Regions from separate parts of the Homo sapiens genome. Here region 2 is linked to region 1. A link means that fine-mapping ties the variant in region 1 to the expression of a gene that starts in the linked region. Tissue or cell type: prefrontal cortex. Region 1 holds a variant in brackets; the other region holds the start of a gene. All regions are shown on one strand. Distances are from middle to middle.

The links. PIP is the estimated chance that this variant, and not a neighbour inherited with it, causes the effect.
Region 2: VSTM2B-DT starts here. The variant in region 1 is fine-mapped to the expression of VSTM2B-DT in prefrontal cortex (GTEx, PIP above 0.99). The same link has a PIP of 0.9 or more in amygdala, anterior cingulate cortex, cerebral cortex and nucleus accumbens.

The regions. Positions count from the first base shown.
Region 1 is chr19:29,405,753-29,413,856 of GRCh38, forward strand. VSTM2B-DT (VSTM2B divergent transcript) reads right to left here. Exons shown (of 10, transcript NR_040029.2): 3 at 7,023-7,214. Among named protein-coding and RNA genes, the nearest start is that of VSTM2B-DT, 120 kb to the right of the region's middle. The variant G/A (reference allele first, on the strand shown) is at 4,187.
Region 2 is chr19:29,520,885-29,528,988 of GRCh38, forward strand. It overlaps VSTM2B-DT (VSTM2B divergent transcript), which reads right to left and starts at 4,866. Exons shown (of 10, transcript NR_040029.2): 1 at 4,540-4,866. VSTM2B (V-set and transmembrane domain containing 2B) reads left to right here and starts at 5,110. Exons shown (of 5, transcript NM_001146339.2): 1 at 5,110-5,781; 2 at 6,327-6,511; 3 at 7,549-7,578. The coding sequence starts at 5,700. The region is part of intron 1 of LOC124904683 (a long non-coding RNA gene); the gene reads right to left.

The sequences.
Region 1 (8,104 bases):
CAGCACCCTCCATTCAAACCATTTGTGGCAGCCGCGCCACACCAGAGGGTGCAGGTCGCAGCCCAGTGCTCTGAAGAGGGGGCCACGGGGAGCCAGGAGACCACAGGCGTGGGTTCTGAGCCCACGTCCGCTGCTGCCTCCCCGGGTCCCGGCATCAATTCCCCACCCGCTCACCTCCCTGAGCCTGCAACAAGAGGATGTGGATGAACAGTGTTCCACTGTGTGTGTATATTAATACCACGTTTTATCTATCCGCTCACCTCTTCATGGTCATTCTCGGCAGCAAGGATGTTTAGAGAATGTTATGCTAAGTGAAAAAAGCCAGGAACAGAAAGACAAATAGCTCATGATCTCACTCATGTGGGAGCTGAAAAAGTCGATCGCATAGAAGTAGCGAGTTGGGTGCTGTGGCTCATACCTGTAACCGCAGCACTTTGCGAGGTCGAGGTAGGAGGTCCCTTGAGCCCAGGATTTCGAGACCAGCCTGGGCAGCATAGTGGGACCCCGTCTCTACAAAAAGTTTTGTTTTTTTTTTTAATTTGCTGGTAGTGGTGGGATGCATGCCTGTAGTCACAGCTACTGGGGAGGCCAAGGCGGGACGATCGCTGGAGCCCGGGAGTTGGAGGCTGCAATGAGCCATGATCACACCACTGCACTCCAACCTGGGTGACCAAGAAAGACCTTGTCTCTAATGAAAAAAAAAAAAGAACAGGGTAGAATAGTGATGACCAGAAGCAGGGAAGGGTGGGAGGACAGCCAGAGATGGCTTAATGGCTATAGAACTACATCTAGACAGGAGGAATAAGTTCTAGTGTTCTATAACACTGTAAGATGACTATCATTAACACAATGTATTGTATATTTTCAAATAGCTGCAAGAACGAATTTTGAATGTTCCCAACCCAAAGAAATAATAAATGTTTGAGGTGATGGATATGCTAATTACCCTGATTTGATTATTACACATTTCTACATGTATTAAAATATCACTGTACCTAATGAATGTGTAGAATTATTATGGTCAACTAAAAATAATAATAAATGCAAAAAAAAAGGATGTGAGGAATAACTCCACTCACGGCCCTCCCTGGGGTGCACCTCCTCCGTGTACCTGACCACACATCAGGGGAAGGCACAGAGCTGGGACAGAAGCCCAGAGGTGTCCTGTCACCCCCCTGCTGCAGGCTGTCAGCCCCTCCTCATCACTTGCAGGGCCCAGACAAGGCAGCCCACCCGCCACAGGTGATGGGACCCCCAGCCACCCCTCCGGCCCCCCAACCCTGTGCCCCTCTCCCCAGCACCCCTCTGGTTCTGATGCGACAAGCCTTCTACAGGACCAGTGGCCACACTGCTCCCACCCTGGCCCTCACACTCTCTGCCTTCTCTTCCAGAAATGCTTGCCCCTTCCTCCTTGTTACCTGGCTCCCCCGATCCCTTAGGCCTCCCCTAATCCTCAACTGGCACCCCCAGCCCCTGTGTGGCCCCTTCCATCCTGGCACTTGTCTCTCCTGCTGACCTGGGAGCTCCAAAGCAGCAAGGACCTCAGCTGTCTCCCTCCCTGATCCTCAGGTTCCCAGCACCCAGGGCTGGGCCAGGCTTCAGCTGAGTGCTCTGCTGTTACCTGTAGAGTGAGTGGGTGGGTGGACTTTATAACCATGGCCCACCAGCCTTGACCTTTCATACAGTTTGACAGACCTCTTGCTGCCCCAGGCAGCCCCATGGCCCTGAAGGCAAGGGTACCCCTGTAGCACATCCCAGGGACAGAGCCAGACTCTACTACCTCCACCCCCTGCAACACCATTTTCTTTCCTGCCCTTCCCTGTTGCAAGCATATTCAAATGTTTAAATTCTGTTTGGGGAACAATTAGCCTGACATATGGTCTCATCACGTTTTGTCTTCCGATGGAAAAATCCAGGGGAAACTTGGAAAATGATGACTGGCGAGGCTTTAACGTGTTTTTGCTTTTTTTGATGGTCACAAGCAAGCCACAGATGAAAAGCCTGTTACCATCTGGTCCAACCCTCTCATCTGACTCAGGGGGAAACTGAGGCCCAGTGAGAAGAAGGTACCAGCCTAAGGTCTCCCAGATGCAAAATCCAGAGCCCTTGGCACTTGCCTCTCCGCCTCAATAACCTTCAGAGAGTTGGACCTAATCTTTGCAGTGGGGTGGTGGAAAGAGGGGCTTTTAGGGCCAACATGCTCGAGTTCTGTCCTCGAGATTGTGTGGCTGGAAGGCTTCATACCCCTGGACCATAAGAGGATGGCAGAATGGGGAGGACCTGCAGTTCCCTGTCTAGACCCCTCTTTGGTATCCCCATCAGGCAATGGCTTGGCCAACCAGGCCCCCGCTTCACTGCCCAGTGACGTCCAGACCTTGTTGCCATCCACCCTGCAGCTCCTAAGGATCCAGACGGCATCTGCCAAGAAGATACAGCAAGCCTGCCTGGAATCAGAACCCACTCCTGTGACTGCCAGAAAGAGCCCACTCCCTGCATCTTGCCCCGCTGGGCCTCATCTTTCCTGGGGATGGGGGTGAAATACCCAGCCACTTTCTGGCCCCTAGAGGCCCGATGTGCACATAGACGGGCTGGATGACATGTGCCTGGGCTCACTTATGGAGCATCTGTCCCCTCCCTCACCACAATATCAAATCCCGCAAGCAGAAGCAGGAGGAAGTCTGTCTCTGCCTGCGTGTGGTAGCTGGCACATCCCTGGTGCTCCATGCTGTGGGTGCCCGGCCACTCGCCTCTACAAGGACAGTGCTGTATGCTGACAAAGCTTTTCCATTCTGCATAATGGTTTTGTTTGGTTTTTGTTGTTGTTCACAAGAACCCAGGCAGGTATGATTATTATCATGCTGACTTTGTGAATGAGACAACGGAGACTCAGAGAGTGAAGGCGACACATTCAGTAAGGGGCAGGGCCAGGATGTCCCCTGTGTCATAGGCTCTAGGGAGCTCAGGCACTCCTAGAGGGGAGATGTGAAGGCATCTCCCTGGGCTGGAGCTGAATGAGGATAATTCCCCTCCCTTTGTTCTGCAAGGAGTGGAGTCCCTGGAGCTACATCCAGTGCCATGGTCCAGAAAGGGCAGACCTGTAGCCAAGAGATGTCCCCCAAGCACCGTCACATGCCTGAGGTCCTGAGGATGCTGTGGAGGGGCCACCCTCAGTGCACGCCTGAGCCGACACTGCAGAGCCTGGCTGTGTAGAGGTTCCCAGGAAGGACCTCCAGCAAGGGCAGGGCTAGATCCCGCCTGCCCACAGGGAAGGAGAAGCACAGGTGGGGAGAGCACAGGTGCTCTTTCCCTCCCGATGTATCAGCTGGGGGCCTAGCGCACAGGCCTTCTGCCAGGAGTGGAGGCTGCATGGGCATTCTGCAGGCCACCCCGTCCCCCCAGAAGCCCCACCACAGACAGCCACATGTTGAGCCTCCAGCTGACAGGGCACAGCTCTGACAACAGTGAGCAGCTGGGGGACCACACTCGTTAGCTCCCATTTAGGAGAAAAGGCATGCCTTGTCCTTCCTCCCTGAGCTGGGCTCCTGCAGGGCCTGGCCGGTGGCAGTTAAAGCATCCGGACGCTTTCGGACTCCCTGCCGCAGGAGGGGCTGCCCGGCCAGGGCTAGCGGGTGACCATGCTGTGCTGAGCGCCCACAGAAAGGGCTGGGCCCTACAGACTAATCCATTGTAGGGGCATGGATGGGAGTCGGGAGGCTCCTGTTGCTACAAAATGACAGTCCATCCATCCAATGTTCACTGCTGCCAGCTCTGTGGGCCCCCAAGAGCCACACGGTCTCTGACCTGGGGAGCACACAGGGAAGAGAAGCCAGCCCAGAGGTAGATGGCTTAGCCTGTACATGTGGCCCATGGAGGGCCTGGTAGGCTTCCTAGAAGAGGCATCTGACATCTGGGTCTTGAAGGATGAATAGGAGTTTGCTTCCAAGGGCGGATGGGAGAGAAATAGTCCAGACAGAAAGCACAGGCCATGTCCAGTCACAGAGCTAGAATTCTTCAAACCCAGGTCTCTCTGCTGTCAAAGCTGGTACTCTTAGAAGCTGCATTCTGCTGCTTGATGCAGGGGGAGCTGCAAACACCAAGCCAAGACTTGGAGAAGGGCCTAGGAACGGGCGCATTCAGGTGTTGTCTTCATCCATTTCGGCTGCCATAACAAAAATACCAGAGACTA[G/A]GAGAGACTTGTAAACAACAGAAGTTTATTGCTCACACCTGGAGGCTGGGAAGTCTAATATCAAGGCCCCAGCAGATTTGGTATTGCATGAGGGCCCCCCACTTCCTCACAGATGGCCATCTTCTCACTCTAACAAAACAGCAAGGAATCTCTCAGGCCTCTTCAAAAATGGCATTAATCCGTCAATCCCATTCATGAGGGCTCCTCCCCAGTGGCCTAATCACCCCCCAATTCTCCACCTCCTAAAACCATCACCTTAAGGACCAGGATGTCAGATTGTTTTGTTTTAGAGACAGAGTCTTGCCCTGTCACCCAGACTGGAGTGCAGTGGCACAGTCACAGCTCACTGCAGCCTCAACCTCCTGGGCTCAAAGGATCCTCCTGCTCCTGTGTGTAAATCTCCCACCTGCTGAGAGAAGCCAGCTCCCCAAACCACATGCACATCAGACTCTATCTCCAGATTCCATGTGAAATCCACCAAACGTGGGCCACCCAGGCGGTGGAGCACCGAAGGAGACACACATGAGGAAGACACAGGAAGGGGCTCTGTGTCACCTGGGACTGGCTCTGGGAGGATGCTGCAGCATTGGCTCTCAGGGACACAGAGCAGGCAGGGACACCCTCTGGGACAGGGACAGGACAGTTAGAGTGTGGAAAGATGGGGAGGGCAGAGGACACACCACACAGAAGTGTGGTACAGGCAAAGGCATCGAGAGAGACCCTCCCAGGGCAGGAGGGGACAGAAATGGTCCAGACAGAAAGACAGCCTGGAGGGAGCCAGCCACACTGATGATGATGGATAACATCTGTGGAAGGTTTGGAAACAGGAAATGACAAGAGCAAAAAATAAAAAATAAAATAAGGAAAATTAACCTAGCCATGGTACAGTCAGAAAACTACTAAGTATTCCAGGAAAAGGTTGGAGAGAGAAGGGTTTCTAAATTTCATTCTCAGAATCTAAAATAAAACTGATTTTCTGGCCTCTGGGAGCTCTGGAGAAGCTCTGGAAGTTGCAGGACCTGTGCAGTCACCACATCTTCCAGCTTTCCAGCCAGGTCATCGCTCCCCAAGTCCCAAATTGTGTGACTGTGACCACGATGGTCTCAAGGTGAGGGGCAATCAGAAGGGCTTTCAAAGACATGAGGTGTGGGCTCAGAGGCATGCACCAACTCATACATGCCAACTCATACACACACACACACACGCACTCACACACATGCGCACACACGCACACACATGCACTCTCACGCACACACACACATACACATACACATACGCATACACAGCAGCTCAGCGGTGGTGCACATTTTCTGTTATCAAAGGAGACAACAAAGAGGGGTCATGAAATGCAGCCAGCAGATGGAAGCCCGCTAAAATGTCAGCCAGAAGAAATAGCCCACGTCAGAAAAACAAAATTCCAGTTTAGCAAAATCCTTCCCTCCTCCCCCACTCCTCAGAGAAAATTTCCCGTGGAGGCCCCTGGAACTTTGGCAATCCAAGAAGAGTTATTTATTCTGGACCGCCGCGCCGCTGTGCATGTTAAGTACAAAAAGGAAAAATGCTTTCGGATTTGGAAATGGGGTTGCAGTCGCAGATGGTGCCTGAACATGCATAAATTCGGTGACTGCGTGAACAGATGGAAACTTGAAGGGGAAAAAAAAAATTAAAAAAAAACAACCTAGCATTTATCTGCCAGGCCACTGCGGAGCTGGAGAAGGGGAATCTGTCACTTGACTAGGAGGGTCTCGGTCTTCCAATCTGTGGGATGGGGGTAAGAAACCACCATACTCAATGGTCATTCCCAGCTGAGTTTCAGCCCTGTCTCTGCCACTGAGGAGCTGGGGGACCTGGCCCCTTACTTAACCTACTTCTTCATGTGACCCCGGGGATAATGCAGATGACCTGGCAGGGTTGTTGTGAGAATTGCCTGAAGTCATCCATGCATAGGACCTATCTGTACCTAGCCAGGGCGACAGCCCCATGAGTGGGGCCTCACTTGCCAGATAAAGCCCGGAGTAGCCCAGAGAGGAAGATGGAGCACCCTGAAAGCTCCACTGGTCGGTCCCACAGGAGAGGGGCTGGGGAGAGAGAGAGAGGAAATAGAGACGGACTCCTCCCAGCTTCCCCTTTCCAGAAGGTTTCTGGGCTCTGGGCAAGAGCTGCACAGGCATGCTGTTCAGGAGAAGCCGACGGTAGGCCAGGCTGCAAGGGCTGTGCCAAGAAAGGGTCTGTGGGCAGGTTCAGTGGGAACGTAGGAAGAATGAAGATAACTTAGAAGGAGGGTTCTTTCTCTTTTTGTTTTTGAGACAGGGGCTCCCTCTGTCACCCAGGCTAGAGTGCCGGGGTGCATTCATGGCTCACTGAAGCCTCAACCTCCTGGGCTCAAGATCCTCCCACATCCGTGCACCAACACACCTGGTGATATGGGTCAGACTTTGTGTCCCCACCAAATCTCATCTTAAATTGTAATCCCCAGGTGTTGAGGGAAAGACCTGGTGGGACGTGTTTGGATCATGGGGGTGGTTCCCCCATGCTGTCCTCATGATAGAGAGTGATTTCTCATGAGATTTGATGGTTTTATAAGGGGCTCTTACCCTTTCACTTCCTACACATCCTCTCTCACCTACCGCCACGTAAGACGTGCCTGCTTCCCCTTCCGCCACGATCATAAATTTCCTGAGGCCTTTCCTGCCATGAGGAACTGTGAGTCAGTTAAACCTCTTTTCTTATAAATTACCCAGTCTCAGGCAGTTCTTCATAGCAGTGTGAAAATGGACTAATACACTTGGGTAATTTTCTTTTAATTTTTTGTAGGGACAAGGTCTCGTTACGTTACCTAGGCTGGTCTCGAACTCCTGGCCTCAAGCAATTCTCCCACCTCGGCCTTCCGAAGTGCTGGGATCTCAGGTGTGAGCCACCATGCTCAGAGCCAAAGGGAAGGTTCTATCCAGGGTGCCCAGAGATTCTTAGCAAGTCAGTCCTCAGATTCTGCTCCACACTGGGGAGTCCACATGGTACGGTGAATTGACTGCAAAAAAAATAGCCACAGTTCTCCACCCCTCCCTGCCTCCAGGCCCCCAAGGACATTTTGCAGCTACTCCCTGAGGAGGTGGCATCTACTTCTCCAACCTAGCAGGGTGACCTGCTGTGGCTGACAGAACCCAGTGGCAGTGAGTGTGTGTGCCAATGCGAGGCTGAGCTGCCACTCTCTTTGGCGCTTCTACTTCCACCAGGAGGACAGGCCCAGGTTGGCCTGCTGGAGGAGGAGATGCGTGGAGCAGAGCCACACTGGCCCCAGGGGCCCAGCCAAGGGCCCTAGGTGGAAGAAGATCCCACAGCCACCTTGCCAACCCGCAGACAACCACAGGCCCATGAGTGAGCCCTGCCGGGCCTGGCTCAGATCCGTAGAGCCACAAATGACCCACTGTTGCACAGGGAAAAAAAAACACATGTTTACAATTGCATGTCACCAGGTCTCAGTGGTTTTTATGCAGCGATTTTGTGACAACTGACACTGACCTACCTTCTTTCACCACACTCCCACTCCAAAGCAATTTCTGGCTCTGGAGAGAATGGGGGTTGGGGAGAGTCTCAGCACAAACCCAGAACTACAGTTCAAAACTCAGAAACTATGATTCAGAGGCAAAGGGCTCCCTCCCCATAGACCATGGCAACAGCTCCACCACTAAGGGCCAAGTCACCAGATTGTCTGAGAGTCCCTCTGCTTGCACCACTAGTTTCCCTGATGAAAGGCAGAAACGCCAGCCATCTCTGACCGAGGCCATCTCTGCATAGGGAGCTTCTGGCCCTCAGCTGTGGGGCTGGCACTGCAGAGAGGGCATCCCCACCCCTGCACGTGCCCACACAGGTGAAAGAAAGCCTGAGCAGCTGCCCCCAGCACAGGCTGGAAACCCTGGA
Region 2 (8,104 bases), 120 kb after region 1:
CCTCCACCCCTCGATGACCTGATGTGTGCCCTTGGAGGGGCGTCTTCCTGGGACCGGACTTCAGGCCATTATCCCTGACACTGGTGGCGTGTGAATGACTAAACTGGCCAAAAATAAAAGCCCCCATAAATCTCCTATTTTCCTATAAGCTGTCGGGTACACAGAGTGTGCTGGGATTATTGATAGAAAACTTTATGGATGGGCTGCATCTTAAAATCAAAATACATTACCCAAAATCAATGTTGCCGTACATGGTACAGGGAGGACAAGAAAGGTCATCCGAGACAAGAATACTGAAACCCAACTCCAAGAGGACCTGAGCATTAAAATAAATAAATTTTGAAAGTGAGTTCCAGGAAAAACACTCACTTAGGGCTGTAATTTAAGGGTGCTTTCACAAGAGGCTGGGCAGTCTTTTTAAATAGCGCTTTTTAAAGTGCCTCTGAGAGTCCAGTGAATCCATCCACAAAATGGTATTGACAAGCACCCCAGCTCACAGCCCTATAATAACAGCTCATGATAGGTAATGAGTGAGAGCCCCGAGGCTGGGCACACAGTAGCCAGGCCCTGGCAGAAGCAAGCCCCCCGGGCACAGCCAACTGGGCAGGGCAGCCAACCCATGGCCCCATCAACCACATTACAAGAGGATCTGCCTCCAGGTCTCTGTGCACAGCGACCCCACAGGCATTTTATAGCTGTGGATGGAGGGAGGGGAAAACCGTGTTAGTTCCCATTGATGATTAATCAGGACTAGAAACAAAATGATCATGAAATACTCTCAAGTCCATAGCTTCACATAACCACGATTCACTGCAAACAGGTCATCTTTGTAGGAGCCCAAGAGATACCACAGTAGGTAGACCTGAATGGCTGTGTCCGCAGAGCTTAGTGTCCCTTTGGGAGAAGTGACACGCATGCTCCTCCCCAGCCACCTTCTTTAGAGTCTCCAACTGAGAGACCACATCCCACCAGGACTTAGTGAGAAGGAAATGGCTCCCCTGCAGGGAGTGGGGAGCCAGGCTTGGCAGAGACTGGCAGGGAAGGAACCCAGTGCCCTCTGACTGGCAGGAGCTGCAGTCTGGTCTTAGCTCACTAATCCTCCAACTAGCCAAAGGGCTAAGTCGAAGAGACAAAATCCCTGCCCTGCTCACAGAAAACCCACAGCAAAAGGGAGGCAAAGTGCTCCTAGCAGGGTTCCCTGTCCGAATATTTGCTAGGCTCTAACTATGGGCAGGCCCAGCTGGGAGTTAAAGACACAGAGAAAGCCAGTGTGGTGGCTCACTCCTATAATCCCAGTGCTTTGGGAGGCAGAGGCAGGAGGACTGTTTGAGGCCAGGAGTTTGAGACCAGCCTGCACAACACAGCAAGACCCCATCTCTACAAAAAATATTAAAAATAAAACATTAGCTGGGTATGGTGGCGCATGCCTGTAGTCCTAGCTACTTAGAAGGCTGAGACAGGAAGATGGCTTGAGCCCAGGGGTTCAAGACCAACCTGGGCAACACAGCAAGACCTCACCTCTACAAAAAATTTTAAACAAAATTAGCCAGGTATAGTGGTGCATGGCTGCAGTCCTAGCTACTTGGAAGGCTGAGGCAGAAGGATCGCTTGAGCCCAGGCATTCAAGACCAGCCTGGGCAACAGCAAGACCCCATCTCTACAAAAAACATTTTAAAAATTAGCTGGGTATGGTGGCGCATGCCTGTAGTCTCAGCTACTTAGAAGGCTGAGACACGAAGATGGCTTGAGCCCAGGGGTTCAAGACCAACCTGGGCAACAGAGCAAGAACTCACCTCTACAAAAATTTTAAGCACAAAATTAGCCAAGTGTGATGGTGCATGCCTGTAGTCCTAGCTACTTGGAAGGCTGAGGCAGAAGGATCGCTTGAGCCCAGGGGTTCAAGACCAGCCTAGGCAACATAGCAACACCCCATCTCTACAAAAAAAATATATATATATTAGCAAGGCATGGTGGGCTAATCCTCCTGGTGTCAGCATGATAACTCTGGAGGCTGAGGTGCTTGAGCTCAGGACGTTGAGGTGCAGTGAGCTAAGATCGTGCCACTGCACTCCAGCCTGGACAACAGAAAAAGACCGTGTCAAAAAAAAAAAAAAAAAAAACCATAGTGAAGGTGGGTCAGCTGCTCTCATCACAGTCTACAAGGCAGGGCAGAAAACAGATAGACCAAGCTGAACAGACAGGAAAGAGACTACAAGTCTAGCTCAGGCTGCTCCTTGCTCCCATCAGTCAAGGGTAGGGCCTTGCTCTCCACACCAACTCGAGGCATCAGGACCAGGGGCTCACCTGGAGGAGGGAAGAGCTTAGTGTTTTGGTTAAGATCCAGGACCCCAGAGTAAGACAGGCTTTGGGTTGATGCGTCACTCAGCCACTTACTAACTATGTGACCTTGGGCAAGTTCCGTAAGCTTCTGAGCTTCAACCATAAAATGGAGTGAAATCACCATGTCTACCCCTGGAGTTGTGATTGAGGTAAAATGAGCTCATTCATTCATTCCACAAGTATTTACTGAGCTCCTACTCTGTGCCCGACCCTGTTGTAGGCGCTAGAGATACATCAGTGAACAAGGCAGGCACAGTCTTAGAGACCTGCAACAAGACACTCAATAAATAAGGATGTGGTCCCATGTGTTGGAAGATGGCTGGCGAAATGGAAAAAATAAAGGAAGCAGAGTGAGGGCCTGGGAGTGCTGGGTGGTGGGAGGAGAGGCAGTGTAGACTGCAGTGTTAAATATGGTGGCCCAGGTGGGCCTCATGGAGAAGGTGACTGCTTGACAAAAACCAGAGCACAACGGAGTTAGCCAAGCAAGTATCTGTGGGAGAAGCATGTCAACCAGATGGTGCGGCTGGTGCAAGGGCCCTGGGGTAGAAGCATGCCCAGTGTGCTGCATTGTAGGAAGGAGAACAGTGTGGCTAGGGGAGTGTGAGCTATGGAGAAGACAGAAAAGATGAGAAGATGAAGGAAAAGGGTGAGCAGGAAGCAGAAAGGCAGATGGTTTGACCTTGGCAGCCACTGCAAGGCCACTGGTGTTTATGCCAAGTGAAATGGGAGCCACTGTGGGGTTTTTCAGCAGTGGAAGAGGGATCTGATTTCCCTGAGAAGGATCTCTTTGTCATGTTGAGAACTGATGCCTAGAAAGTGTCTAGTACATGGAAAGCATGTGAAAACATGTATCTGTCGCTCTTAGAGTAATACCAACTCATGCAGTGGGCAAGAAACACCCAACCCCACAAGGCGGTACAGGGATAAATTACTTCCAGATAATTCCCTCTAGCTACAGGGATTCTCCCACGGGCATCGCTGGTCTCCAGCATTAGCCTCTGCTTGGATCTGGCATCAGGAAAGGAGACTGCTACCTCTCCAGGTGGGCCACTGCGCAGTGGGCTAGCTCTTTCTTCAGAACCCTGCTTGGAATCAGTCCCCAAATGAGCCTGCTTTCCTGGAACCCCGCTGTGGTCCTGAATCTGCATAGAGCGGTGCAAGTCTGCCCTCTCCCTTCAGAAGCTGAGGACAGCAATGGGGCCTGGCAGGGTCTTACATTCGGGGGTCCAAAGTGGTTTCTAAGGGCACATGGGATTTCCTAGGAAAAGCTCCTGCCATGACAGAAGGAGCTGGCAACTGCCTCTGTGGAGCCCCTAGAGAGGAACTTGAGGGAAAGGAGGAAAGTCCTATAGGACCCCCTTCTTCCCTTTGCCCCCAGCAGGAGACCTTAGAAAACAAGGGCTTGATAGATGAGCCACAGTGAGCCAGGGGGTGGGAGTGACTCCTGGGCCATAGACGAGGAAACTGAAAGGCAGGCACTGGAGGCAAGAAGGGCTGGCCCCGGGCACCCGCTGGCGAGGACAGCCTTGGAGAGGGCCTGCAGCTCCTCCCCTCTGAGCTGTGCTGCGCTGGCCGCCTGGACCAGGGTGGCTGCTGGAGAGTGTTTTCCCTCTGGGTTTCCTTCTCCTTGGCTCCCAGGGAATCCTCTGGCGGTGCCTCCGGGAGGCTGGTAGCCGGGGAAGCAGGCACGTGAATCCACCGGGCTGCCCCACCCCAACCTGAGGTCAGAGCTGAGGCGTAGGGGCCGGGGTAGGGGCAGAGGTGCCGAAACGCACTAGCTGGGGACTCCCGGGGGAAGGAGATAGGAGAGACCCAAGGCGAGCCTTAGGACTCGCCCCTATGACTATGACTACGCGCTGCGTCCGAACCACATGTCCACCCCGCATTTGCCTTCGGGGACCAGACCGCGCTCCCTCAGATGGCTGGGGAGGGAGCAGACTCCGGGTGAAGGCTGGGGGAGGTACCGGGATGCCGAGTACGCCAGAGCAGGCGGGGGATGGGTTCCGGCTTCCTGCCGCCTCGGCATCTCGCTTTGCACCGGGCAAAGAAGGGGCCACGACCGGCGAAGAGCGCGTGGAGACACAGGGACCCGCGATCCAGGGGCAGGAACCCCGCCCCCTCCCGGAAACCTCCCGGGCCCTGAGTCGTGCCCGGCGCTCCCCACCCCACCCCACCCCCGCCGCCCCTGCCGTCACTCACGGCCGCTGCGGGCTGGCTAGCGTGTGCGCTCTCCGCGCCGCAGGCACCTGCTCGCTGGGCGCTGTGCGCTCACTTCTCCCTCGCGCACTGCAGACTCCCGGCGCTGCCGCCGCCACCCAGCGTAGTCTCCGGCTGGGCACAGCGTTCCGCCCTTCTCGCGGCCCCGGGCGCCCACCCATCCGTCATGGCCCAGGCCTGGGCCAAACAGCGGGGCAGCTGGTTGCCCAAACTGGGGTAAGGAGTTGAGGGCTGGGAGCTGCAGAGAGGACCGAGGGACACACGGGGAGCAGGGATGAGCGGCCGTCTCGAGCCGTGCAGACTGGGAAGAAGCCAGGGAGAGTTTGGGTGGGAGGACTCCCAACCCAAGCGGGTGCGGGGCGGGGCTGTACTCCAACCAGAAAGACGGTGGTCCCTCCGAGCGACCCCCGAGGAGAGAGGGGGAGCGCTCTGGGGCGGGGGCGGGGCGGGCTGTGGCAGGAGAGGGGAGGGCGGGGGCGATGCAGCGGTGGAGGCGGCTTGGCGCCCAGCCACTGACCGCCCCCTCCCTTCCCCTCCCCTCCCCCTCTCCCCGCCTCTCTCCGGCTCCGGGTCCGCCACGCCGGACCCGCTCTCCCCGCGCTGCGCTGGGTCGGACGCCAGGTCTGCGCGCCGCGGCTGAGCGCCCACTCGCCCTGCGGAAAGAGCCGCGGAGGAACCGGCGGGGGCGGCTGCGGGAGCCGAAGGAGGTGGCAATCGGGAGCAGAACCAGAAGGAGACAGGGAGGCAGAAGCTCGCGGCTCCGTGGCACGCACTCCCTCGGCCAGGGATGGGTCCCGGCGCGGCCCAGCCCCTGCCCGGCCCGCCGGGCAGAGACTGAACCGCGGATCCCCACCGTCCTGTGGACGACCGGACAGAGAGAGGCACTGACCGATCGCCAGCAGCCTCCCGGTGGGACCGCGTCTCCTGCACACCCCGCGCAGCGCCCCCCGCCGGAGCCGCACCGGGCAAGCCGGCGAGGGAGCGGGGCTGATTGGCGGCCGCCGGCGGCCAGGGGAGGGGGCGCCGCGCGGGGCCATGGCAGGCTCGGAGGCGTCCTAGCCCGAGCCGGAGCCGATCCGAGCCCACGCGGCCGCCGCCTCTCCGCTCCCGGGCCCCCGCCGCCACCGCGCCCCCCGCGGGAGATGGAACAGCGGAACCGGCTCGGTGCCCTCGGATACCTGCCGCCTCTGCTGCTGCATGCCCTGCTGCTCTTCGTGGCCGACGGTGAGCGCGGGAACTTTGCTGCCGCTGTGGACTCGGGGGGGTCTTTGCTGGGGCCGCCACCGAGAAGAAGAAGAAAGAGAACGAACCGGGAAGCTTCGCGGTCTCCAGCAATCCCGCTGTGCAGCCTGGGCCCGGAGGGGTAGGGAGAGGCGAGCGGCGAAGGGTCGCCGCAGCAGCAGCGCCGCGCCCGAGTCGTTCCCAGTCCCGCCGGGGCCCCGGCTGCGGAAAGGATGCCTGCGGGGAGCGGGAGTAGGCGCGCCCCAGCCAGGCTCTGGCGGTGCGGCCAGGGGCGGGGGAGAAGCACGAGTCGCCCCTGCCGCCCCGCCCCATCCGGAGGGAAGCAGTAGGCAGCCGATGGCCGGTCCCTGCCTCGGCCCTGCAGCCGCTTCCCCGAACTTTGCTAGCCCCTCCGGCCGTGCGCCAGGGAGCAGCTGCGGGGTGGGGGGCACAAGGCCAGCCAGCCAGAGACCGACTGCCTCGCTTTAGGTTGCCCCAGGCCCCCGACCTACAGCTGGTCACGCCTCTCTCTCTCTCCCCACCCCCAGCTGCATTCACAGAAGTCCCCAAAGATGTGACAGTACGGGAGGGAGACGACATCGAAATGCCCTGCGCGTTCCGGGCCAGCGGAGCCACCTCGTATTCGCTGGAGATTCAGTGGTGGTACCTCAAGGAGCCACCCCGGGAGCTGCTGCACGAGCTGGCGCTCAGCGTGCCGGGCGCCCGGAGCAAGGTAACCCGCCGCCCACGCGGTACCGGCGCGCGCCCGGCTCGCGCCCGGGGCGGCGAAGGCTAACCCAGGGAGGGAAGCAGCGGGCTTCACTCGCGCAGGGCGCCGCCCTGTGGCGCAGCCCATCTTCCACCTTCGCATCCCAAAGCATCTTCAAAGTCAGCAGTGGTTACCCCCAAACCTGTCAATTATTTTGACAGCATCGCTGTTCCCACCACCTCCCAGAACTCCATTCACGCCCAGCCCCTAAAGAGCCACACCTCAGCCTGGTCGCTTGCTCGTGCTCGCTGGCTGCGGCCCTCTGATGGGTGCTGGGTAGTGAAGGAAGCCCCCTTGGTCCCATCAGGCTCTCCCCGCCCTCTGCCACTTTGAGGACCCCAGGGCTCCCACGGCTGCGTTCCAGAGGCCACCAGAAAACCGAGTACCGGAAAGCCGGCAGGACCTCCAGCCCTCAGGGGCACAGAGGGGCCACTTCTCTGTGGCCGAAAACAGGCCCACGCTGCCTGTCTGCCTCAAAACCCACACTCTCTTACACACTCTAGTGTGCTCGCGTGCACACACACCTACACACACACCTACACCTACACACACCTACATTCTCCCAGGGTCCCACCCAGAGTTACTCCCACTGAGCCTCCCGCTGGGTGCTGTCCAGACACAGCGGCCCTCCCTCCAGTTCTTCACGGCTCCCAGTGAGCTGGGGGAGGATTTTGAGCCACGCGGCAGGGCCTAAGGATGCCCAGAGGGAAGGAGAGGGGCTTTCCTTCCCACCCTGGTGTCCATCCAGTCTCCCCAGTTCAGCCGGCAGGTGTGCACCAGGGCAGCCACCCGTTGGTCAGGCACCATGCTAGCTCCAAAGCCCGCTTCCTCCTGGGAAACTCTTGGAAAGCCGGACGTCCTTTGTGCCCTCAACCCCCATCCCCCGGGCGGTTTCGGTCCTAGCCTGCCGGAGGAGGGTGCCCTTGCCTAAAGGCGGATCCGAGTTCCCCTAGCCAGAAGGCCGCGAGCCTCACGTCTCTCTCTCCCTCTTTGCATTTTAGGTAACAAATAAGGATGCAACTAAAATCAGCGTAAGTGTGGAGCCCAGCGCGGGCCGCGGGAGACCCCTTCTGGCCGCCTCGGGTCCCGCAGCTCCCTCCCTTAGCAAGCCGCGGCGGCCGCGCATGTGGGGCCGCGCAAGTAGGGCAGCGATCGCAGCCTTGCATCGGTGGCTGCTCGGCGTGTCCGGGCGCCATCTGTCGCCGGTTGCAGGGTCGGGTTCTCTTTTGTGTAAATCAAGGGTCCAAGGCTTGAGTCCCCTAATTCGGCTCGGCGCTGACCTGTAAAACTCCCCTTGGTCGGACTGCGCGCTTAGGGCCTCTCGCGCCTGCCAGCCTCCGCTCTGCGGGCATTCCTCCTAGCACCGGGAGCGCGCGGCTGCTCGCCCTCGCCGCGACCGTGGCGCCAGCTTCCCGCCCCCTCTGCCCCGCCCTGAGCATCTGCTCTGCGCCCTCCGCTGCAACCCTTTATCCTCCGCCTGGATTGCGGGTCTGGGTGCGGGGTGTTGCAGGCTTGCAGGGGACGGGGTAGGGGGTGGTTGTGCCAGGCTGCGAGGGG